Regions from separate parts of the Homo sapiens genome. Here all the other regions are linked to region 1. Evidence: fine-mapped expression QTL. A gene starts in region 1. Each other region holds a variant in brackets. All regions are shown on one strand. Distances are from middle to middle.

Evidence for each region.
Region 2: its variant is fine-mapped to the expression of LINC02883 in sun-exposed skin (GTEx, PIP above 0.99).
Region 3: its variant is fine-mapped to the expression of LINC02883 in esophagus mucosa (GTEx, PIP 0.98).

Annotation. Positions count from the first base shown.
Region 1 is chr15:85,753,749-85,764,288 of GRCh38, forward strand. It overlaps LINC02883 (long intergenic non-protein coding RNA 2883), which reads right to left and starts at 4,977. Exons shown (of 6, transcript NR_120366.1): 1 at 4,763-4,977; 2 at 4,503-4,600; 3 at 4,136-4,241; 4 at 2,074-2,208; 5 at 1,770-1,907; 6 at 1,193-1,493. It overlaps KLHL25 (kelch like family member 25), which reads right to left. Exons shown (of 3, transcript NM_022480.4): 3 at 5,578-7,263. RefSeq lists enhancers at 6,854-7,355, 8,172-8,905, 9,640-10,373, 10,374-10,540.
Region 2 is chr15:85,825,805-85,835,401 of GRCh38, forward strand. No RefSeq gene overlaps it. Among named protein-coding and RNA genes, the nearest start is that of MIR548AP, 5.0 kb to the left of the region's middle. The variant C/T (reference allele first, on the strand shown) is at 3,027.
Region 3 is chr15:84,990,918-84,995,917 of GRCh38, forward strand. The region is part of intron 1 of PDE8A (phosphodiesterase 8A); the gene reads left to right. Among named protein-coding and RNA genes, the nearest start is that of PDE8A, 12 kb to the left of the region's middle. RefSeq lists a silencer at 1,681-1,975. The variant G/A (reference allele first, on the strand shown) is at 2,511.

The sequences.
Region 1 (10,540 bases):
TGAGGAAGCAAGGGGGGAACAGGCATGGGCAGAGGCACGGTTCTGGGAAAGCGCATCCCCAGATCCCAGAGGAGTTCCTCAGGACTTGCCCAGCCTGGGGCCCCATCACAAAGCTCCTCTCTGTGGTGGAAGCCCTGTGTGCCAGACTACTTCCCCCCAAGGAAGGTGGCCCTGGTGTCTTCCTGCTCTTTCTCCATCACCACAAGCATTTGAAGCCCTGGCTTTTACCTGGGAAGCGAGAGAAACATCTCCTCACCCACTAGCCCTGACTCCAGCTCAGACAAGCCTGGACAAACGCAGCTCATGCCCAGTGACATTCTAGGTCGCCGGGGGAAGATCTGCTAAGCCATGGCCTGACCCTCCGGGCTCAGCATGCACTGAGCAAAGCACCCGACCAGAACACTCTTCTTTCAGTCATCACACTGAGGCTTGGACCTGGGGGTGACTGTCCCCACCAACAACACAGGAAATCAATCTTCCTGGAGGTGATCAGCCTCCTGAAGAGAAAAGTCTGAAAATCAGGAAGTCACAAAGTTTTTTAAGACTCTGCACGCTTTCCAAGCAGAAGTTAAGGTCCTTTGAACCCTGTGATTGCAGTAACCATTTCTCTGGGGTGGCTCATACAATTCCAAGCCATGGAAGGAGGACAAAGCACTTGTGCCAACAGGAGGGACGACCCGCCTCTGTGAGGAACCTCCTGGTGGGCTCTGGGCTTCCTGGCAGCCACAGCTAAAAGGGAAACTTTTTGTTGTTGTTTATTGTTTTGAGACAGAGTCAAACTCTGTCACCCTGGCTGGAGGGGCAGTGGTGCAATCTCGGCTTACTACAACCTCTGCCTCCAGGGTTCAAGCGATTCTCCTGCCTCAGCCTCCTGAGTAGCTGGGAATACAAGCGCCTGCCACCACGGGGGTTTCACCATGTTGGCCAGGCTGGTCTCGAACTCCTGACCTCCAGTGATCCACTTGCTTTAGCCTCCCAAACTGCTGGGATTACAGGTATGAGCCACCGTGCCCGGCCAGAAACATACATTTTTACTGAAATTGCCTTCAACTCCCCAGAAAGCTGGAATACTTTCTTTCTAGTTAATTTTCACACACACACACTCTCTCTCTTAAGTTGGAAACGTATATGGGGCAAAGGAAATGGACATCATTGACAGAAATCTAGTAGCCTCTTTACCCGATTTAGTTCAATCCTTACAACAGGCAATATGATCTGTTTTTTTCTTTGTTATCAATGAGGAAATGAAGTTACAGGAGCAGAGGGACCTTCCCAAGGAGGGCCACCAAGTAGAAGAAAAGCTGCTGTTTGCACCCAGCTGGCTTGACTGCAGTGTGGCCCCTCACGCTGCACAGCACAAACTGAGGACCCACGTCCTGAGGCTCAGCTGAGGGAGCCAAGCACATGGGCTGCAAAGATCTGGCCTTGATCCCGGAGCAGAGCTCACACTACTGCTGGGAGGAGGAGACAGGCATGGCAGGGACCTCGCAGGCCTACAGGAAAGGCAGCCACAGCTGGCAACACCAGCTTGGAGGGCAGACTGGGAGCTGAAACCCCGCCCCCCCACACCCCGGCCACCTCTCTCAGGCAAATGTCACAGCTGCATTTAACAGTGCTGGCTTTTCGGTATGGCCTCAACTCCCATTTTAAAAATCTCACTATTTTCCATGGGAAGTGGGGAGATGGAGAGAGGGAGAGACAGGACCTGCTCCTCGACAGTCTTGGATGAAGCCCTAGTTAGGGTTGTACAGATGAGAGACACAGAGTACCTCAACGTTCACTCTGCAGAGTGGACAGAAGCGGGGCCAGCTTCGAAAGCGTTGAGGAAGCTCACAGGAGCCAATGTGAAGAAAGTGCGGCCATGGAGGAGTCATCCGTGGCACTCGCTCTCAGAGCCTGCATTTATCCTGCATGCACGTGTCAGGATGAGACTGTGCCATCCTGTTCCCTCTGCGGTCCCGACGCTGGTAGAGCCACCACAGGGTGGGCTTGGCAGGATGTGTCTCTTGCTCCCATCCTCCCTGGTTCCCCACCATCCCTGCAAGCTGAGTGGAGAAGCTGTGATGAGTCTACCTGGAAATGGCTTTGGAGCCCTGGGTCCTGGCATGGAGCTGGTGCCCATCAGTAGAATTACTTAATCTATCGTGCAACCCAGGAGTGTCTGGAAGCTTCTCTGCGTACCAGAGCAACGCTGCTCATCTCCTTTACCTGCAGAAAGGACAGGAAAGGAGTCCAGCCCTACTAAATTCAACTCAAAAAAGCCACTGCTCCCCTACTGCAAGCCCTCAGGGGCCCGAGCGCCAGGTGCCAAACCCAGGCCAACCCCAGGGCCAGAGCAAGGCCCCTCAGGTTCAGGGGGCCTGGGCAGCTGGGGCCAGACACACAGAAACTGCCAGAGCTTCTGCTGCCATGCTGAGCATGTTTCCTCAGCTTTAAAATGGTGACCTCAACAGTGACTGGGGCTAGGCAAGGTGGCTCTCACCTGTAATCCCAGCACTTTGGGAGGCCGAGGTGGGCGGATCACTTGATCACTAACCTCAGTCAGAGGTTAGTGAAAACAAAGGTGTCATTCTTCTCCCACCCAAGTGCATGGACCCCCTGAATTTGATCCCAAATCCCAAGTTAAGAAGCCTCCGGCCTATTCTAGGCTTTTCCTTGACCTTTAATGAGGCAGAGCCACATCCCAAAGCCCAACAAGGCAAGGGAAGATGCAGGACAATACTGTGCCCGTTCTGGGAAATTCACCCAAATCACCCTGGCTCCCTGGGCAGGGCCTGAACCTCTGCAGGTGCCATGGGCGGGCCAAGCTGCAGGTCAGGTAGGGTTGGGCCTGAGGGAAGAAGAGCAGCTGGGGGGCCGATCACCTTCATGGCCTCTTCAAGTTGGAAGAGACCATTCCCACCTCCTGAAGGAGAGAGGCCGGGCAGATCCATCGGGGCTGGGCCTGGGGCCGGGGCTGGGACATGATGGACGGGGCATGCAAGTTTCTTGCTCTGCGAAATATCCCCCCAGTGATGATCCAGAAGAACCAAGGCTCTTTCCAAGCTGTGCTCATTAGACAACTGCTTCTGAAGAAGTTGCTTCTTTCCCCACTATGATTCTACAGCCTTCGGTGTTGAGCAAGGGATGGTTGCCACACACCCTTGGGGTGGATGACTCTGGGCTCATTCTTGTCAATTCCTGACCAAAGAAATGTCCTTTGAAGGCAGGGAGACCTGGCTGAGCAGCCAGGTGGAGGAGGCAGTTGGCTACCCTCTCCTTGCCCTTGGCAACTTGACAGTCCCCCCAGGCAGGCTCTCAGGATGCCAAAGCCTCCAAGATGGCCCGTTTTCTTTCCTGCATCAGGCACAACCCAGGAAAGCTCCACTGGCCATCTTGGGACCGAGGTTTCCAGGGAGACCTTGCCCCATCACTGATGGGGAAGGCGCCTTCTCCCTTCCCCAAGCCCCATCCCAGACTCAGTCTGACCCCTGGGAGGCCAAGGAACATGGAGCTAGGCCTGCTGGGCAATGACTGGAAGCAACACTGCTCCCAGCCCCCAGCCCCCACAATGTAGCATATGGCTTGGTTTCAAATCCCAGTTCCACTGCTGTAATGTGGCGGCCATTCTCCCCCTGTAAAGGGCTATCTGGGCATTGGTCCTGGTGTTTAGTGCTTTATAGAATTTGACCTCAACTTTTAACCCTACTATCATTAAGTCTGTATCAGAGAATCAAGTGGTTTAACCAAGCTTGCACATACATGAGAGCCACACGTGAGAGCTTGAACCCAAACTCAGGTGGGCCTAGCTCCAAATCCACATTCTGTCAGTTGCAACCGTGTTTTTTCCTCCTCCTCCTCCTCCTCTTTCCAGCATGAGACATTGGGCAAGTTACTGTGACCTGTGGACCCATTTCTTCATCAGCAAGAAGAGGACAAGAATGTCTACCTCCGGGGGTCACTGTGAGGGTTAAAGGAGGTAGTTATGCAAAGCACTGGCCAGTGGGCTTGACAACTGCTTGACAAGAAGGGTTTGACAAGAGCCAGGATCTTGGCAGATGACGGCTCTGCATGCTCCCAGAGAAGCGGGAGGCAGGGCGGTGTGCCCAGGTTCCTTCCAACCCCTGACCCAGCATGTAGAGGAAGAGGCTGCTACCTGTCTAATATCTACGCTCCCTTTACTTGGCGTTGGAGTCCTGGAGTTTCCTCGGGGCACTTTCCAGTCCCGCTCGCAGTCAGGCGTGGATGTGACTGAGTTCTAGCTGTTGGGAAAATGGAGAAGTTATGGTGCAACTTCTGGGACATGCCCTTAAAACAGGCTTGCCCATCACTTTCTCTCCTCCCCTTTCCACTGGCTGGAATGCAGATGGGATGGCCGGGGCTGCGAAGGCCAGGGTGGACCAGGAAACCGCTGCCTTGCATGGAAGACGGCAGGGCAGGGAGAGAGGGGGTGGGAGTTGGAGAGAGAGGGAGAGAGGGGGAGAGAGTTGGAGCCCTGTGGGCCACAGCTGGCTCACACTCACCCTGTGACTGTGTGACAGGGAACTTCACCTCTGCTGCTGTCTGGACTCTAGCTGGAGCCAACTCCTGGCTTTGGATGCCCAGAGTGAAGCGCTCAGGCCTGTGTGGAAGTGGTAGCGTTCACCTGTGGTCCCCACCACTGCTACAGGAGCAGACAGTGCGAGGCAGAGTCCCAGGATGCCCCTCCCAGGGCTGCACCTCTGGGCAGGGGGAGGGACGAGGCCCTCTGTGCTCTTGGCTCTTCTACACGCACCATACTCACCTCTGAGACACACCCGCTCAAGATCATTCCATTTTCTAAGGAATCTGGCGTCATGCCCCTACGCCAGCATCAGAAGCACTTCTTACACTGTGAAGGCGCTATTTGGATTTTGTGGGCCAGCACACCACTGAGCACCACGGAAGCCACTGCTGAGAGCCACCGTGCTGGGGCACCTCCGGGTTCCTGTTCACAGCAGAGCCACCCTGCACGCAGGCTGCGCCACGGCATGACCTTCTCGGGCTGCCCGCTGTCTGAGGGGCGCCTGAAGGTGAGATCACAAAACACAGAACACGATGTTTACCCGTGAGCATACGCTTGAGCTCATGAGGTTCATGGTGACTATGAAAACGCACAAGGAGGGCAGGTAGCCCAGGGCCCACGGTGCAACCAGTGGGCGCAACGGTGCCGTGAGCTGGCGCTGCGGCCGTGAAGCTGCCTCCTGGAGCCATTTCGCCCCTCTGAATGGCGCTCGGGTTATTTTCAGACAAAGGAGCATCAACTGGAGGTTCTGCCTTTTCGAATGGATGGAATTACATTCCCAACTTCTATTTACCAGAGTTTCCAGGAGAGAATCACTCTCAGGAGGGGCAGACAGGATCAGGACTCTCCACGGAATCAACTTCATGGCTTCTAAAGCAACTTCAGGAGGCACAGGAATGGGGAGACCTCTCATCTGGGTGGGTTCCCCCTTCCCAGCTCATGAGAGGGGCAGATGCCAGCAGGCAGGCCTTGAGCCTTGGCTGGTGGGACAAGACCAAAGTCAGCCACCAGCAATGTCTCCAAGACTGATCCCAGCACACAAGGCAGGCAAAGAATTTTCTCAACTCTTTTTATTAAGTTAGAAAACTGATAAAAGCAACACAACTTTTGGGGAAAGCACCATGGCACGTCCTTTGTGCTATGTGATAAGTGTGCTTTATCTCAATGAAGCAACCCCACGGGTCCAGGCACCCTCCCTGCAGTCCCCGCGGCCAGGCTCCTGAGTGTGCCAGCAGAGCCGTCCCCTGGGACCACAGCCAAGTGCCTTCGGGCAGCTGGCCTGACACAGGCGGGGTCTGCTGGGTCTACAGGGTCCAAGGAGCCCCATGCAGCCAGTGCCCCATGGCGGGCGTGTCAGTGGGCAAACCCTGCCCAAAGGTCCCACCCCCAAGAGGCCTCCAGGACCCGCACCAAGGCATGGGGGACACTCGTGGCTGCTTAAGTAACTGGTATGTGCACAGCCCCCTCCGCGGCCCTAATCTTGAGCCAGCCAAGCAGTGTTCACACTGCAGGTGCCTGGGAAGCCCCAAGTTTGGACACCCTGCCCAGTCCCTGTCAGGGCACCAACACCCCTCCCTCTCAAATGGTGGCTTGGGAGTGAGCGAGAGGCATTAGGATGGTCACTGACAGGCGCCAACCTCTCCATAGCCCAGGTGTCAGGGAGGTGCTGGTGAGGGACCCCAGTGACTCAGGAGGTGACAGCAATGAACAAATGTTCAGCAGTTCTCTCGGGGCCATTCTTATCTTGGAGCTCAGGGAGCAAATGGGGGCCAAAACGCAAGAGGATGGTGAGGGTCCCGTCACTGTCCTCCACACTGAGATGGATGCGGCCCTGGTGGGATCTGCAGGGGACACCCTGGGGTCCCTCTGCTGTCTCCAGCTCACAGCTGCTCCTGGTCTTGGAGGGCAGCGTGGTCTCCTGGGGAGAAGCCCCCAGTGCTGTTGGCAGGTGTGTGCCATGGGGGTCACTGCTGCCTCTCAGGGTGGGCTCTGAGGAGGGGAGGGGAGGGGTGACCCCCAGGGCACTCGGAGCCTTGAGTCTGCTGCAGGCCCAGCTCCACTGAGTGGCCACGAGCAACTGTGTCCCCACCGGGCCACAGCACTGAGCAAGGCCCTGAGTAGGTGGGCTGGGACTTACAGCTTTGTGGAAGGGGCCCACAAACCTTGGAGGTCTGGGTGTCCTTTGCTAATAAGGCCTCATGGATGTCACTGAGGCCCCCCTGCAGTTTCTGCACCTTAAAAAATCTGTCTTGGTCACCTTTCTGGTCTCAACCCCTGGGAACCTAGTTTCCCAGGCCCAGGACACCATCTATAGATGGCAGTAGAGCCCCAGCAGGGCAGGCCAGGAGGGAAAGGATGTGTGGCAGTGCCGCAGCCCCAAAGCCCACCCGGGGCGCCTCCCTGCCCCTGCCTGCCCGGCCCCAGTCCAGGACCTGCCAAACAGGTGATCTCAAGGCTCTGCAAGTGTCCTTCTCCCCGACGCCAGGGTCAGTCCTGGTGGCAGTCCATGCCCCTCTGGGAGGTATGTCTTCCCACAAACCACTGCAAAGCTGAAGAGGCCCCCAGGGGCACGGATGCAAGAGATGCTTCTCTTCTCTTGCCTAAAGCTCAGAACAGCCCAAGGCTGCTGCTCCCCAGAGCTGGCAGGGCCCCTTCCACCTCTCGGAGTGCTGGCCCAGGGCCGGCTTAGCTCCCGCTGTGGCAGACAAGCAAGGCCACGCTGTGACACTGAAGGCCGCGGTCTGTGGAGGGAGGAGAGGAAGAGAAAATCAATCAGTGGCCACATTGTTCTGTTCTGACCTGATCTGGAACAAAATGACAATGACACAGCTGCCCATGAGGCTCGGGCGTGAGAACGCCAGATCCACCATTCACCGGCAGCGCAGTCTGGTGATTCAGGCACCCCAGGCCTGCTTTCCCCACTGAGTGGCAGGTGACTCAGGTGTCAACTTGATTGGATTCGGGGATACCCAGACGCCCGGGGACACATTACGTATTCTCAGTGCTGGAAGGGAAACCCAGGCGGCTTGGTACTTGATTCGAATGGCCAGGCCGCCCCAGTGAGTCTGTGCTTCCAGAGGTGACCGGCGTGAGAGCCGTGGTTGCAGGTGAGCACCATCAGATGGGCAGGGGCCCTGGTGGAATAAAAAGCTAAGGAAATGGGGACTCAGGTTTCTTTCTTCTGGAGCTAGGTTGCTCTTTTCCTGCCATCGGGCATCAGAGCTCCAGGTTCTCTGGCCTCTGGGACTTGCTGCCCACCACCCCACCCCCACCCCAGGCTCTTGGCTCTTTGTCCTTGGGCTGAGGTCTGTCCCCAGCTCTCCTGGTTCTGCAGCTTGCAGCCTATCATGGGACTTCTCAGCCTCTATCACCAAGTGAGCCAATTCCCCTAATAGAGTAAGTTCCCTCTCACATACCACTCCGAGGCCCTGAAAGGAAAAGGTGAGCCCTCTCGCACAGGCGGGCACAGGCAGGCGGAGCACTCTAGCAACCCTGAGTGTTCATGCACTCCATAAGGCAAGGAGCCTCAGCAAAGCAGTGATTAATGGTGACGCTGTCCGCGGTTTTTGGCTTTGGTTGTATTTAAGCTGTACGTGTTAGTTTTAGTTGTGTAAGAACAAGAACATAAGGGGCTTTCTAGTTGTATGCTTGTGTGTATTAAGTAACCTTAGTTACATTTCAATTAAACACTGAAGCCAGCACTGAGGCTCCACGGCTGTCCCCTTTAAGTGGGGTACACCTCTCCATCCCACACAGTGCTGGGCCGTCTGTTCTCTGAAGGCTGCTTTGCAGGAATTCTGCCCTCCCCACGTGCTCAAGTTGTTTCCAGATACAGAGGCTGGGTTCGGCGACTGAGAAGGCCCCCAAATCCCTTCAAGCTCCTCACAAGTGAGAAGCTGGGGTCACAGGGGCCCTAACCATCCTGAGATGCTCTAAGACTGCAAACCCGAACCTCTGGGGCCTGGCTGCCCGGTCTTGGCCCCATCCCAGCACGCCACATGCTGACATGTGGTCCCTTCAGGGCAAGGCCTCACTGCTACCTGGAACTAAACAGCCACGCTACCTACCTGGGGGTGTCCCCCAAGGCACCCTGAGTTGCTGAAAGGAATACAGATGACAGCTAGAGGCACAGGGGTTGGGGAGCCTCGGGGCCAGGCTCCTGTGTTCCCTCTCAGGCTGGGTCCCTTTGTTCCCTCTCAGGCTGGGTCCCTTTAATTTTTGGCAGGTGCTCCCTGGGGCCTGGCCTCAACTGTGAAATGGGCTAATCCTCCAGCTTGCAGAGTGGACAAGGGTCAGCGGCCGCCCTGCACTTCCTGTGTGCAGCAGGTCTTGGCCAACGTGCATCCTGTGGGTTGTTGGTGTAGGGCCTGCCCCACTAGGCTCAGCCTGCCCCATCAAGGGTGGGATGCTGCTCTATCCCCCAGCCTGGCACAGGAACGAATGACTGCTGATGCCTGGACGGACGGACTCCGTCCTGGGCACTTGCTTAGCCAGGCCCAACCCTCAAGGCTGGCAGAAATCCTCAGGCCTGTGCTCTGGGATTTCCCATCTGTAGCAACTTCTTTAAGACAGGAGAGAATGTACTGTACTGTCCCTCCTGCAGCAGTGACGGAGCCCACAGTGGATTAATGAGCTCGGCCTTTCCCAGAGCCAGGACTGGAACCCTGCCCTGCACCCCAGTGGCTAGGCCCCAGCAACACCCTGAAGAGAAGACAAGCTGTCGGCAGCCGGATGCCTGCCTTGCATTCGGCAGCCCCCCCATGCTGGAGGCGGGTGGGAAAGAAGGGTTGGGAGTCTGCGCCTTAAAGGGCCTGGAGTACGGGGTGCCCAGTGGGAGAGAAAGAGAGAGAAGGAGAGAATGTTCACAGCAAGATCACCCTTAGTGGGTAAGCGGGGGCCTCCTGCAGCCGCTGGCTGCTATCCCCTAGGCTGTGGATCCAACCGCAACACTGGAGCAAGGGGCTGCCCTGGAGGTCGCTCAGGTTCCAGCTCAGCAATTCCCCGCCGCTTCTGGACGGCTGCTGGCCAAGCCTGTGCTCTGTGCCAGGGGCGCAGACGTGAGGATGCCCGTGGCCAGCTCCCCAGAGGCGCCTGCAGGCAGGCGGCACACTCAGGGCTCAAGTCCTGCTCCAGCCCTGACTCACCATTCATGTGATGCCAACTGTCTCACCTCTCAGAGTCCTAGTGGGCGCCCTCCAACAGCAGGACCTACGACAAACAGCTCTGGAGAATGACAGGGAACTCGATGCAGACGCTCACACCTATGAAGAGCTCCAACAGGTGGCCAGAACAGGGGAAAAAAAATGCTTGTGGACAAACAGGGGCCATGATCTGGGGTGCAGAGGCCACAGTGTGCAGGGGACCTCCTGGTGGCTTCTGAAGCTAACGTCAGAGTCTTACAGGATGGATGGAAAGGGGCCTCCAGGGACAGGGGCAGTTGGGCCCAGCTGGAGGCAGGAGACTCAGCCATGCTCGTGGGGACTAGCGAGAGCTGGACTTCTCACCAGCATCCTTGGCCTGATCCCCACTGCTGCCTGGGAGAGTAGCGTCAGGGAGGGAAACGTAGGGAGCGGGGTGGTCACAGAAGCCATCTCGGGCCCAGGCACTGCCAGACGACATTCTAGGTGGCAGACGACGATGCGCTGGTTGGGGCTGCAGGCAGCCAAGCTCAGTGGGAAGTGCCATGGTCACCAGGGGCACCCACCGCGGGGGAGGTGGCAGGAGTGCTTTGTTTCCACCCTTCCTGGCCCCGGTCTGCGGCTGCCTGAGTTGGGGGCTCTCCTCTGGCTCAGCCCTGACAGCTCCGCAGTGGCCGCCTGAGCAGCGAGAGCTCTGCTTGCAGCCACTGTGGCTCCATTTCCTGGTGACCCAGGGAAGGCCAGGCATGCCCGGGCAGCGGCTTCTGGGCTGCAGGCCCTTCTATGGAGAGCCCAGCTCACTCCCTGCCTTTGAAGAGAACTCGGACACTGAGCTGTCCAGGCAGAAGCTGGACAGGAGGAGCTTTGCAGAGCATGGGAA
Region 2 (9,597 bases), 72 kb after region 1:
TCTCCTGCCCTGCTCATGGCTGGCTAGCTACCTACTGTAACAAGAGCACAGGCTGTCAAGCAGGTTTTTGGCTTCCCAGACAGGGCCCATGGATTTTGTGAATGCAGCCACTATTTATTGATGTAATCGCTCCACCCTATAGGGCTGGAGTTGTGCTTGGCCACAGAGTGCCAGATGGCCATTAGGTACCAGCTGCTTCCACCCAAGAACACTGTCACTCACAGAATGCAGCTGCACAGATACCAAGATGGAAGCCCCAACAGTTATCATGGATGTTAAGAAATCCTACCGCCACTTCAAATCACAAGACTAGCTAACATATACTGAATGCTTATCACACATCGGGTGCTGTGCTAAGCACTTCATGTGGATTATTAGTTCCTTAAATCCTTCCGACAAGCTATCATTTGACTTTCTAGGGACTCTTCTAAGAATAAAACTATCCTTGAACTACAGCACTGTTTTAGGAATTGTGGGAGTCTTCCCTTCCAACCCAACTCCTGTGTTCTCTTGGGGAATCCTTGAAGAGCTCAATGACTACTGCCCACTAAGTGCCCTCACACTACATGCTCCTTGTCAGCTTTACAGGACATGCGGATCCTGGGAGCCTTACCTCATTCTCTGTTGAAGAGAAGATACAATATAGTTTTTTGTTTATTGCCTGTGTGATGCTAGATCAGCTTGTGCCTTAAACTTGGTATTGAAGGGGTGACCTAGACAGAAACTGCCCAAAGAGTGAAATTTATTTACTAATAAGTATGAATTGTCTGCATGCAAAGGATGCATTTTATTGGAAAAATTTATCATGTCAACATATTTTTACCATATTATCTTGGCTATATTATAACAGTATAATGGAAAGTTATTGACAGGAAGGAACCTATGTTTTCAGTAAACCATCATGGACCATAGAATAAGTCTGCCACTGAAAAGGCTGTATTTATGATTATTGTAGGCAACTTGAGAAAAACCCCTGAGGGAACTTATGGCCAGGTGCAGTGGCTCACACCTGTAATCCCAGCACTTTGGGAGGATGAGGTGGTTGATTCCTTGAGCTCAGGACAAGGCAAAACTCCATCTCTACAAAAAATAGAAAAATTAGCCGGGCGAGGTGGTGTGTACTTGTAGTCCCAGCTACTCAAGAGGCTGAAGTGGGGGGATCACCTGAGCCCAGGGAGGTCAAAGCTGCAGTGAGTCATGTTTGCGCTACTGCATTCCAGCCTGGATGACAGAGCAAGACCCTTTCTCAAAAAAAGAAGTGATCTAGATTTTTTTTTAAAACATGCTGATAGTACAGAAACGTTCCTGGGGAATAATTTGACTGCAAGAGACGTTTTCAAAAAGAACTAAGATAGTTTTGATCCTATCTCAAACCTCCCCTTTAATGATTGAGGCTTTACATCAGTTATTTACAAGAAACCTGGAATGTCAGACAATACAATTTGTAATAATGGTGCAATTACAAAATTTGTGTCTGAAGGTTTTATGAGTCGTTATCAGCACAGCCTATTACTCAGTGGTCTAAGAGAATGGCCACAAAGTTGCTGCAAGTATCTCATCCCTCAGCACACAAGAACTGCCTGTGTAGAAGTACTAATCTGTCGGCATCTCTGGACTTGCTTCAGTCATTTCTGATCAGATTTAGCTTACTGTCTCTAAGACAAACAAGAGTATATTTGGGTTATTTATTTGTATCTATTCAGCTCTTTATCAGAGTGTTTTTTTTTTTTTTTTTTTTTTTTGAGACAGAGTCTCATTTTGATACCCAGGCTGGAGTGCAGTGGTGCAATCTCGGCTCACTGCACCCTCTGCCTCCTGGGTTTGAGAGATTCTCCTGCCTCAGCCTCCCGAGTAGCTGGGATTACAGGCACCCACCACCATGCCCAGCTAATTTTTGTATTTTTAGTAGAGATGGGTTTTCACCATGTTGGCTAGGCTGGTCTAGAACTCCTGACCTCAAGTAATTTGCCCATCTCAGCCTCCCAAAGTGCTGGGATTACAGGCGTAAGCTGCCGCACCTGGCCCTATTTGGCTGCTCCTGTTAGCCCTTTTGCACGGGGCTGGATTCCCTCAATTCACTTTTCCACGCAGACAGCTGGAGTAGGGACAATCAAATTATTTACTTTATAAATTATGCCATTATTACTTCTAAGAGTACTGGTGTCCATTACATCCTTTTCAAAGACTTTCACTGATCAGCTGAGATATCTGGCTTTTTAAGATCCATATTTTTTCTTTATCTTTGCCTCACTGTTTATCGATAGATATACCTGAAAATATAAAAGATTAACATGGTCCAGGGAAGCCAGTGTTTATGGAGTAACTATTTAAAGATAACTGGAGCGGACACTTGTTACTCTAGAAATTTCCCTGTATCTTCTGTTCCCATCCATATGGCTACTTTAGGAGTTGCCATCTTGGTTCAATGCCAGTCTGCCACTGGGCACAGTTGATTGGACCAAATTTAGCTTGCAAGTCAAGCTAGGCCAATCAAAGTTATTTCATGGAGAACTGGATTTGGAAAACAGAGGGTACTGTTTTTCTTTCTGGAAGCTTGATTGACAGGTGTCAAATATGCAAGCTGTTGGCAGCTTTGTGGTTTAGGGAGTACAGGGGTTGGTCCATAGCCAGAAGAAAAAGAGAAGCCAACACAACAAAGAGGGTAGAGGCTGGAGACAGAGGGTATTTTTGTTTCCTGGGGCTGCTGTAACAAATTACCACAAACTGGGTGGCTTATAATGACAGAAAATTAGGCCGGGTGCAGTGGCTCATGCCTGTAATGCCAGCACTTTGGGAGGCCGAGGCGGGCGGATCACGAGGTCAGGAGTTCAAGACTAGCCTGATCGATATGGTGAAACCCCATCTCTACTAAAAATACAAAAATTAGGCGGGTGTGGTGATGGGCACCTGTAATCTCAGCTACTCGGGAGGCTGAGGCAGGAGAATTGCTTGAACCTGGGAGGCAGAGGTTGCAGTGAGCCAAGATTGTGCCACTGCACTCCAGCCTGGGCGACAGAGCAAGACTC[C/T]GTCTCAAAAAAAAAAAAAAAAAAAAAGAAAAAAGAAATCTATGTCACAATGTCACATACCCTTATCTAAACCAATTACCAACAAAGGGTTTGGGAACCCATGATTGGCTTGGACCTATGAGGATTCAGCCCTTGGGCTGGGGCTGTGATCAACCCCTTGTGAAACACAAAGCTGAGCACAGGAGGGCAGATGCTGTTCTGAATCGAAAGAGGAAAGGAGGGTGGGTGAGAAACGCATGTTAAGTAGGCAACCAGCAGTGTCAGTGACACATGGCCGACTTATGTTTTCAAAATCCCAAATGACTCCAGGCACTTTCCACCAGATTTTTTAGCTTACCTCTAAACAGCCATCCATGTGCTGTAGGCAAATTTTGGCAGGAAGTGCCAGAAGGTAGCATCTCGCCCCTGTTCTAATCTGCTTACTGTGCCTCTGACATCAGTAGCACAAAGGGTAAAAATCAGTGCAGTCAGCTCTCCTAATGGCTGTATGACTTTGGAAGTGGCTGTTTGGAAGGTGGTTTTAAGAGACCTGTAAAAGGACAGACATGCTTCATGGTTGTGGCTCCCAGGTAACAACTCTGAAGGACTCAACACCTGGATTCCTGGCCAGAGCCCCTCAGGTGGCCTCCATGTAGGTGCCATAGCAAAGAATCCCATTTTTTTTCATCTAGGAAAAGGGAACAAAGGTGTGGTTCCGATCAGGGTGGTTGGTTTAAGTCCACAAAAATCATCTGTTAAGCAACTACTAAAGGCAAAGATGGACCAAATTGACCTGTTCTTTGTGGGCAGTCTCCATCCAGCTGCTACAGGCTCTAAATGAGCCACCATATAGTATGGCGGCTCATACTATCGGCTCAAGATAGTTGACCTTACAGGTCACCTGTGGAAAGCCATGGAACCCTGGCAGCAGGAACTATTTCTCTTTGGGACCAGGTTCTTGGAGAGAGAGACTAGGCTCAGCTTTCCTGCAACTTGCAGGGTTGAGTCAGGGTCATCTGGCCTGAGGCAGAGGCAGTCACTTGTGGGGACGGTGGGGAGTCTGTCCTAGTCCTCTCACCCCACCCTGGAGAGTTACCACCACTGAGGAAGGAGGAAGGAGATGTTTCTGTTTGTCATCTCATGACATCATCACAGCAGCAAATGATGTGGGCATGGTTGGGAGTGGTGGCTGATGCCTGTAATCCCAGCACTTTGGGAGGCTGAGGCAGGCGGATCACTTGAGGTCAGGAGTTTGAGACCAGCCTGACCAACATGGTGAAACCCTGACTCTACTAAAAATATAAAAATTAGCTGGGCGCGGTGGTGCATCTGTAATCCCAGCTACTCAGGAGGCTGACACAGTAGAATCACTTAAACCCAGGAGGTGGAGGTTGCAGTGAGCCGAGATTGCGCCATTGCACTCCAGCCTGGGTGACAGTGAGACTCTATCTCAAAAAAAAAAAAAAAAGGATTGGACATTAGCACTCCCAAGTTACATTTAAGGAACCTGCGGTTCAGAGAGGATAAGTTGGTTTCCAGGTCACACAGCCAGTTAATGGATTCAGAGCCCATGCGAGGTCCTGATGGATTGGGACACTGGAGATAAACACATGATGGAGGACAGTAGTTCAGGGGAGACCTGGAATGCTACTTGGGAGGGGACTCTCTGAAACAAGAGATAGCTTGGGGACATAGAAGTTGCCCAGAGAGGACAGAGCAGCAGGACAGGAGGTGAACGTGCATCCTCCTATGGCCACCGGTGGAAAATCATATGTATGGGATGCCCAAGGATCAGCTCTCTCCAGGGAGGTAGAGCTGGCTAGGATGGCAGTTTGTGGGAACAGTTTCTAGGAGGCAGGAAAGCACCAGGGGCTGAGGGGAATGGGGCCAAGGGTTGCTGCTGTTACTTGTGGATGCATTACTGGGAGGGCCAGGGGGAGTCCTGGCCGAGAGGAAATCAGACTTGATCAGGGAGATAAAAGCATGGATCAGATTCAAGTAGTAGTGAGGCAAGGATGGAATAGGAAAGGAACAGCAAGCTGAAGGCCTTGGAGGGGCAAGAGCTGGGCCAGGCAAGTGGAGAAGGCTGGACCCGAGGGTGGAGGCTGCCTAGAGCCCCTTATCATGCAGGGCTGCTGGGGGGCCTGAGGATGCCGCACAAGGGAGGACCTGGCCAGCTGGCAGAGCGATGATGCCACCTGTGTGTTTCATCTGAAGAGGGTTTATGACCTGGGGGCTGTATGTGTCCTGAGGGTAGAGAGGAGGAAAGATGGAAGATGGGGGTCTAGAGGGTTAGGGTAGAGAAAAGTGAGGATGTGAGATGCTGGAGGAAAAGTCTCCTGAAGTTCATTCTGACAGCCCTAGCCCTGTCCTCTAATCTCATCTCCCTCCCATTCCCTTCCCAATCCCCCTAGCGCAGCCTTTTTTTTGGGACTGCCAGCCACCCTTAAAGGGAAGGCCCCAACCCTTCCCTCAATTGGGGACCTCAGGGAGAGCTGGCAGGGCCCTGGGGCCCAGAGGGCTGGCTTCCTTCTTGTCAGAGGCAAAACAAAGGCACCTCCAGGGCTCAATGAAAACTCAGTTTGTTTTCTGGCTGTGGCCAAGGGACACCTTTAATTGCAAAACTTAAAACCAGCCCTTGTTGGAAATTGCGACAAGGCCAGACCATATGGGAATGTTTCCCGATGGAAAGGAGCATCTGTTCTCTATAAGATATGCAAATGACGTGTAATTGCACCTTCAGAGAGCTCTGTTTTCCGTCCCCAGCACAGTGCCCACAGGCGGGGGAATCTGACCATGGTTTAAAGTCCTCAGCCCTCCACCCACAAGACAGAGGATCCACGCTGAATCCACACTGCACGCTTCCCAGATTGAGGGACCCAGACCAGCCAGCGCCCTCTGCTGACATTCTCAGTCTTGTACTCAGGGTCCAGAAGGGGTTGAATAAGGCACACACTGCATTCCTATTCTGTTCCAGGTTTTGTGCAAAGTGGGGTTGTTTCCTTTAATGTGGGAGAAAACCCCAATGAGATCTTTTGCTTTGCAGACAAGGTAACCAAGGCTCGGAGGATTTATGTAGTTGGTCCGACATGTCATCTGGCACAGGGTGGGACTGAGATTCACAGCCAGGACTGACCGCTGGAAAAGCCCCTCGCGTGTCTTCTAACATTTACTGAGTGCCTGGGTCATTTCTTTAGCAAATGTTCTCTTATTCTGTCTCCTGTCTGCGAACGCCTGCACTCTCTGTCTCTCAGTCTCTCTTTGTCCCTCCTCCCTCCTGGGAATGGCTGAATAAGGGTCTTCACAAGAAAGGATCATTCCTTCAAAATTAATGCCGCATTTGCTTAAAATGTATTAGAAATGTGTTACAGCAAAAAGCACTTACAATAGCACTGGTAAAATGAAAATGTACATTAAGAAAAATTAGGCTGGGCGTGGTGTCTCACGCCTGTAATCCCAGCACTTTGGGAGGCGGGAGGATTATGTGAGCTCAGGATTTCGACACCAGCCTGGGTAACATAGTGAAACTGTGTCTCTACAAAAAATAGAAAAATTAGCTGGGTGTGGTGGCACACACCTGTTGTCCTAGCTGCTTGGGAGGCTTAGGTGGGAGGATTGCTGGAGCCTGGGAGATCAAGGCTGCAGTGAGTTGCGATTTCATCACTGCACTACAGCCTGGGTGACAGAGTCAGACCCTTTCTCAAAAACACCCAACAAACAAAACAATCACCAAGCCATTTAGAGGAACCAGCCATTCTCTGCAGGAAATAAAGGAACTAAGAGTTACCTCATCACCACTGCCACCACCATCACCACCATCATCATCAGAATGGAGGTGATGCGGTGGGGCTTCCTGGCGCTGCTCTTCACGGCTTGTGAGGAGCTCTGTGCAGCAGCTAGGCCAGGTGAGAACACAAGTCATGGGCCCTGGAGTCAGCCCTTGTGGCAAGTGACTTCCTTCTCTGTGATCTCCTTTCCATCTGTAAAATGGGGATCATAGTTCCTACATGATGGGTTTGTTCTGAGAGTTCAGGTGCTAATGTTTTTAGAAGAGTGCCTGGCCCCTAAGAAGTGTTTAATACACACTAGCTGTTATTACTTTTCAAGATCTTGCAGGAGACCCCGCATGGTGATTTGAGAACTTCCCGGAGTCCTGGGGTGAGAAACAGTGATCGCTCTGGCTTCTTCCACCAGAGGTACCAGGGTTTTTACCTTTTGTACACATCAGGAGGCTTGAAGACATTTGAAAAACTGCCTTAGGTTATAGGGGTCATTTAATCTCCTTGGGCTCCATGAGGTCAGGGAATGTCACTTACAGCATCCTTAGTGTCCAGAGAGTTCCTGGCATGGAGGAGATGCTTGATAAATTCACGCTGAATTGAATGGTGCCTCCTTTTCCTTTTCTTTTTTTGTTTTTTTGATTTCCAGGGATGTGATTTTGGTTCACTGCAACCTCCACCTCCCATGTTCAAGTGATTCTCCTGCCTCAGCCTCCTGAGTAGCTGAGATTACAGGCACGCACTACCATATCAGGCTAATTTTTATATTTTTAGTAGAGACGGGGTTTTGCCATGTTGGCCAGGCTGGTCTCGAACTCCTGACCTCAAGTGATCCGCCCGCCTCGGCTTCCCAATGTACTGGGATTATAGGCATAAGCCACCAAGCCCGTCATCCTTTTTCTTTTCTATAAAATGTAAAAAGAATGCCCAAGTTTTGGTATGAGTGACCTTTTTAAGGGAGATGTTCTTCCAGGAAAGCACCTTGTTCACATACTCTGGGCCACCGTGCAGGGGCTCTGGAGGTGGTCTGACTCCCCCACCATTTAGTGCCAACCTCAGGGCATAGTGCCTGACCGAGATGGAGGAGAACAAGCCCTGGCGGTGTCTATGAAGCCAGAGGGAGTGGAAGACAGAACAGGAAGGGGAAGGAGGGTGGCCAGTGTCCTCATGGGGAAGGGGCAGGTGGGCGGAGAGGCTGGGAGAGCCGGTGTCTACCCAGAGAATGCCACATGGCACCTGGACCTGGTGCTCAGGGAGAAGTCCTCTGGCACCCCTGTGGGTGGGTGGGGTGTTGCCAATGGCCAAGATGGGCTTTGGCATAGCTGCTCTAAGCCTGTGGGCATTCTCCTCCCAGCTAGAAAGGAGAGGGGCTGCTCCTGCCTGTACATGCCAGGGGAAGCTGTTGGTCAGCTGCAAAATGAGGACATTCTCAAGACCGGCCTCTGCAGCGGCTGCTCCCACTTCTCCAGCTCTGGCCCACTTGCCATATGTTCTGGGAGGAAAAATCACGTCACTGAGGTTATTGTCCAGTGAACTGGTGATTCTGCTCTGGGGCCTTGTCGGAGCTGGAAGACTTTGTTTTTTGAATATCATTTCCTGGAGAAAGGTTATGGGGGAGGTGGGGGTTGTGGCAGGGTGGAGGGTTTTGCTGGATAAATAGACCTCTCCCCTTGTTTGTCCTGAGGAAGAGAGAATATTTCTGTCTTACAGATGAAACATCTGAGGCTCAGAGAGTGACTTCTCCAAGGCCACACGGCTAGGAACTTGGATTGAGTCTGTCTGGGATATTTTTTCTTTTCTTTTCTTTCTTTCTTGTTTGTTTTTGAGATGGAATCTCTCTCTGTTGCCCAGGCTGGAGTGCAGTGGCATGATCTCGGCTCACCGCGGCCTCCACCTGCAGGGCTCAAATGATTCTCATGCCTCAGCCTCCCGAGTAGCTGGGACTACAGGCGTGCACCACCATGCCCAGCTAATTTTTTGTATTTTAGTAGAGGCATGGTTTCACCATGTTGCCCAGGGTGGTCTTGAACTCCTGAGCTCAAGAGATTCGCCCGCCTTCGCCTCCCAAAGTGCTGGATTACAGGCATGAGCCACTGTGCCCGGCCAGGATATTTTTTCTGAACTCAACCTTGCTTTGCAAACTCTCAGCTCTGCACATTTGTATCCTTTCTCAGGCCCTACCTTCATGGATGAAAACCTCCCAGAGAGGGAGTTCGGAATAGCCCAACACCTACAGCCTCAGGGTTATTCTGCAGATGCCTTGAGCAGCCTCATCATGTGAGTTCCCAGCCCCAAACTTCCCCATTCCCTGGATCTCATCTGTCCATCTGGTGGTGATTGCAAAATGAAGTCACACTTACCCTTGTGCCCAAATTGCAGGTTCCGAGCCACTCATCCCCCTAGACAAGAACATTAGCCTTCAAGGGTCTTCACTCATTCATGGGAGATCTCAGAGGGAGCCTCACACACATACCCACTCTGTCAGTTGCAACCCCAGACAATGCCCACCCCTTTTTCCTTTCTGGTTCTGGTTTCCACCTGTGCACTAGTCACAGTTTTCTTGTCATTATCACCACAAAAGGGGCCACCTGAAGAATGATGTGCTGCTGACGTCTGGGCCAATGTAGCTTGTTCAGTGTTTGAAGGCCCTCACTCACTGCTAGAATCTCCAAAAGACTCTCATAAAGGCAGCTTGAGCTTCCACCTCGAAGGTCTTAAAACTTGTCCAGGCCGGGTGTGGTGGCTCATGCCTGTAATCCCAGCATTTTGGGAGGCCGAGGAAGGGAAATCACCTGAGGTCAGGGGTTGGAGAC
Region 3 (5,000 bases), 770 kb before region 1:
AGCCATTCTGGTGGGTGTGTAGTGGTATCTCATTGTGGTTTTGATTTGTATTTCCTTGATGGCTGATGATTTTGAGTACTTTTTCCGTGTGCTTGTTGTTCATTTACTGTATTGCTGTCTTTTTAAAGTTTTTATTTTAATACTTTTTTATTAAAAGGAAATATAAACATTATGACCTCTGGGTAGGGAAGGACTGATTAAGCAAGTTACACAAGGCATTTACATAAAGGAAATGGTTGATAAATTCAACTACGTTAAAATAAAGAACTTCTCATCAAAAGAGAGTGAAAAGGAAAGCGGCAGACTGGAAGAAGACATTTGCAATGCATAGTACCAATAAAGGATTAGTATTCAGAGAGGTCCTAAAAGTCAATAAGAAAACAACCGCCCAGTTGAAAAATTGGAAAAGGTTGGGACAGGCACAGCACTAAGAGGAAACCAAATAGCTAATAACTATATGAAAAGGTTTTCAACCTCATTGGGGAAATGCAAATTAAACCCACAATGAAATAACATTTTATACTCATCAAATTGGCAGACATTTAAAAGGTTGGCAGTATTTTGAGGAACTGCTCAACATTAAGTAGAGGTGTAAATTAGTTCAACTACTAGGGAAAAACCCATTGTCATTGCCAGGTAGAGTTGAATATGTGACCCTGTGACATAGCAGCTTCTCTTCTAGAAACTCTTATATATCTTTACTGGAAACATGTACGAGAATTTTCAGAGCAGCATTACTTTTAATTCCAAACTTTCCTGTAAAACCCAAATGTCCATTAACAACATAATGGATAAAAAAGTTATGATATGTTCAAAGAAAGGAATACTTCACAGCTGTGAAAAATGGATTATAGTTTTAGATATTAACTTTGATAAATCTCAGTGGAGAGAAAGAAGAAGCCATCAAAAAATCTGTAAGTTATGATTCTTTTTATTTAAAGATTGATAGGCTGGGAGTGGTGGCTCACACCTGTAATCCCAGCACTTTGGGAGGCCGAGGCAGGAGGATTACTTGAGGCCAGGAGTTTGAGATCAGCCTGGACAACATAGCAAGACCCCATCTCTAACAACAAAAAAAAGATTAATAGCTAAACAATATATAGTAATACACACATAGGTGTTAAAACTTACCATAAAATCAGTTCAGGCAAATAAAGTTTATTTTAAGGACTTAAATGTTTAGCATGTTAATTTGAGTGCCTAATATAGAGGCTGTAGGAGGATAACAGGCCCTGCTCTCAGGGAACAATTAGTCCTTTCTGGAAAGGTGGGGTAGGTCTCTGACCTGGAAGTGATGATGGCACCTTGGGGGATGGATTGTGGAGGCAAGAGCTTGGTCTGGATTGGTCATAAGGTATAGAAAGAGGAAAGGAGGGAGAGGTTTGACCTGGGCTTAAAAGACTGGGAGGATGTGGATAAGTGGAAAATATATCTCTGGATAAGGGGAAGGAAGGGTACGGGGGTTGGGTGCATGTTCCAATTATGAGGAGGCTGACCAGAGATAGGACGGGAGGTCTAAAAGCCAGGTTGAGGAGTTTGAAGTCCATCCTATAAACCTCAGAGAACTCCCAAAGGCATTTCATTTTCAGCGGGGTAGTCAAAGGATAAACATGTTTCATGAAGATTAGGTTTCAGGCAAAAATTGCAGTAGGTGGGGTGAGGGACAGCTAGAGGTGGGGCACTATGCAGGACCTATTGCAGTGGTTCAGGCACAAGGTATGACCAGGTATGACTAACTTAGTGCAGTAGTTTGGGAGAGGAGGGAATGAGAGAAGGAAAAACTGACTAGTGACAAATTGGACTTGGTGAGTGAAAGGGCGGAGAGTGGAGGGTGACTCAGAGGTTGGGGTTTACCAGCTTAGAAGGACTGTGATAACATGCCACAATTTGTACAGTGCTTTATGGTTTACCAAATGCTATTTTTGTACCTCATCTCATTTGATGTTCCCCAAACCATGGGGAGGTGGAAAGGAGGGATTTTATTTTCCCTGTTTAAGGCCTAAAGAAGCAGAAATTCAGAGATTGAATGACTTGTTCAAGTTTGTGGTGACCACTTACAGAAACAGGTTCACTGTAATAGCATAAGGGAGAAGTCACAGGAAAGCGAATTTAGGGAGTTTTTAAAAAACCTTTCTTGTCTTTTGGTTCTGAGTTCATCTTATAAAAATAAACTTTTACTTTTCCTGATTGTAAAAGTCATATTCATTGTAGAAAACTTGAAACATATAGAAAAGAACAAGGATCGGCTGGGCGTGGTGGCTCATGCCTGTAATCCCAGCACTTTGGGAGGCCAAGGCGGGCGGATCACAAGGTCAGGAGATCAAGACCATCCTGGCTAACACGGTGAAACCCCGTCTCTTCTAAAAATACAAAAAATTAGCCGGGTGTGGTGGCAGGTGCCTGTAGTCCCAGCTACTTGGGAGGCTGAGGCAGGAGAATGGCATGAACCCAGGAGGCAGAGTTTGTAGTGAGCCGAAATCGCGCCACTGCAGTCCAGCCTGGGCGACAGA[G/A]CGAGACTCCATCTCAAAAAAAAAAAAAAAAAAAAAAAGAACAAGGATCACTTAAATTGTACAATCACTTAAATTGCACAGTCAGGAGATAATGTCTCTTAAAATGGTGGTGTGTTTCCTTCCATCCATGTAGATTGCTTTAAATAACTATAATTAAAAACTTTTTTGGGCTGGGCGTAGTGGCTCATGCCTGTAAATCCCAGCACTTTTGGGAGGACAAGATGGGAGAATCACGTGAGGCCAGGAGTTTGAGAACAGCTTGGGAAACATAGTAAGACCCCCATTCTCTATAAAAAAAAATAATAATAAATAAATTAGCTGGGCATGGTGGTGCACACCTGTAATCCCAGCTACTTAGACTGAGGTGGGAGGATTGCTTGAGGCTGGGAGTTTGAGGTTGCAGTGAGCTATGATTGTGCCACTGCACTCCAACCTGGGTGACAGAGTGAGACCCTGTCTCTTAAAAAGCAAAAAACAAAAATATTTTTTAAGCAGTTTTGTTTTTTAGTTCTAGGAAACATTTAACTATTATTTATTTAAATGTTGTCCCCTTAAGTTTTCTCATTTTCTCTTCTGCAGCTCCCTCCAAAAGATAGATTGAGACGCATCTTGATCTGTCCTCCGTGTCTCTTCACTTTTCTTTTACTTCCCCTCTCTGTGCTATCTTCTGGGAGGATTTTTTAGCTCAATATTTTAAGTCACGAATTCATTCCTCAAGGTCTACTCAGCTCTTTAGCCCACTGAGTTTTTAAATTTGAGTTTTTGTCTTCAGTCTATGGTTTGCTCTTTTTTCTTAATTGCTTATTCATGTTTTATGGTTGCAGCATACTTCCTTATCTCTTTGAGGATATTAATTACACTCACTTTAAAGTCCTATTCTGATTGCTGTATTAAAAACACTTTTTATTGAGTTATAAATGTAATCAGCCAAGGTGTACAAAATCCCTAAGTGTACAGCTTGATGAATTTTCCTCATGCTCCCATGTAATCACCAGCCAAATCAAGACAGAACATTTCCAGCATTCCAGAAGGCTGCCTTGTGGCTGTTTACTGTTTTTTAGTATTTTTAACATTTTATGAAAAATCTCAAAATACAGCAATCTTGAAGGATTTTTCACAGGGTACCCCTGTGTACCCAATGCCTGTATTTTACATTAGCATTTTACTGTACTTGCTTTATCACATATATCCATGTATCCATTCTTCTACCTATCATACTCCTTTTTCTTTGATATATTTTAAAGTAATTGCAAGTGAGGACGGGAGCGGTGGCTCACGCCTGTAATCCCAGCACTTTGGGAGGCTGAGGCAGGTGGATCACCTGAGGTCAGGAGTTCAAGACCTGACCAACATGGTGAAACCCTGTCTCTACTAAAAATACAAAAAATTAGCTGGGCATGGTGGCAGGTGCCTATAATCCTAGCTACTAGAGGCTGAGGCAGGAGAATCGCTTGAACCCAGGAGGCAGAGGCTGCAGTGAGCTGAGATCACACCATTGCACTCCAGCCTGGGCAACAAGGGCGAAACTCTGTCTCAAAAAAAAAAAAGAGAGAAAAAGCAATTGTAAATGTTAGTATACTATACTTCCCCTTAAATATTTCAGCATGAATTTGATATTTGCTTAGGTTTTTTCCTTTTGAAGCAACATTTACACACAGTGAAATGCACAAATATTTAGTGTATATTTGCTGAGTTTTGACAAACGCATACATATATCTGCGTAATCCAAACCTCTATGAAGTTATAGAACATTATTTTCATTCCAGAAAGTTTCATTATGCTCCTTATTGGACAATCTCTTCTTGCAACCACCCTTCTGATTTTTTTCTTACCACAGATTAGTTTTGCCTGTTCTAATTTTAATATAAGTGGAGTTACACAGTATGTACCTTTTTTTTTTTTTCTGAGGCAGGGTCTCCCTCTGTTGCCTAGACTGGAGTGCAGTGCTGTGATCATAGTTAACTGCAGCCTTGACTTCCCTGGCTCAACTGATCCTCCTCCCACCTCAACCTCCTGGGTAGCTGGGACTACAGGTACGCACCACCACTCCTGGCTAATTAAAAAAATTTTTTTTGTAGAGACAGGGTCTCATTATATTGCTCAGGCTGGTCTCAAACTCCTGGGCTCAAGCAGTCCTCCTGCCTCAGCTTCCCAAAGTGTTGGGATTACAGGTGTGAGCTACCACGCCCAGTGTATGTACTTTTATATAAGACTTCTTTCCCTAAGCGTTATGTTTTTGGGATTCATCTATGTTTCATGTCTCAGTAGTTCATAATATTACACGATTAACTTTTAAAAGCTCACGATAAATATTGTTAAATTGCCCTCCAGGAAAATGTGATGAAATTTTGTAATTAAAAAATCCCTGAGTGGCTGGGATTATAGGCATGCACTACTTTACCCTGCCTTGTGGTCAGATTTTTATTTCATAAGGAGCATGTGAGAGTGCTTTGTGGTGCATTCATCAATCTGACTGTGAGAGGTGGTATT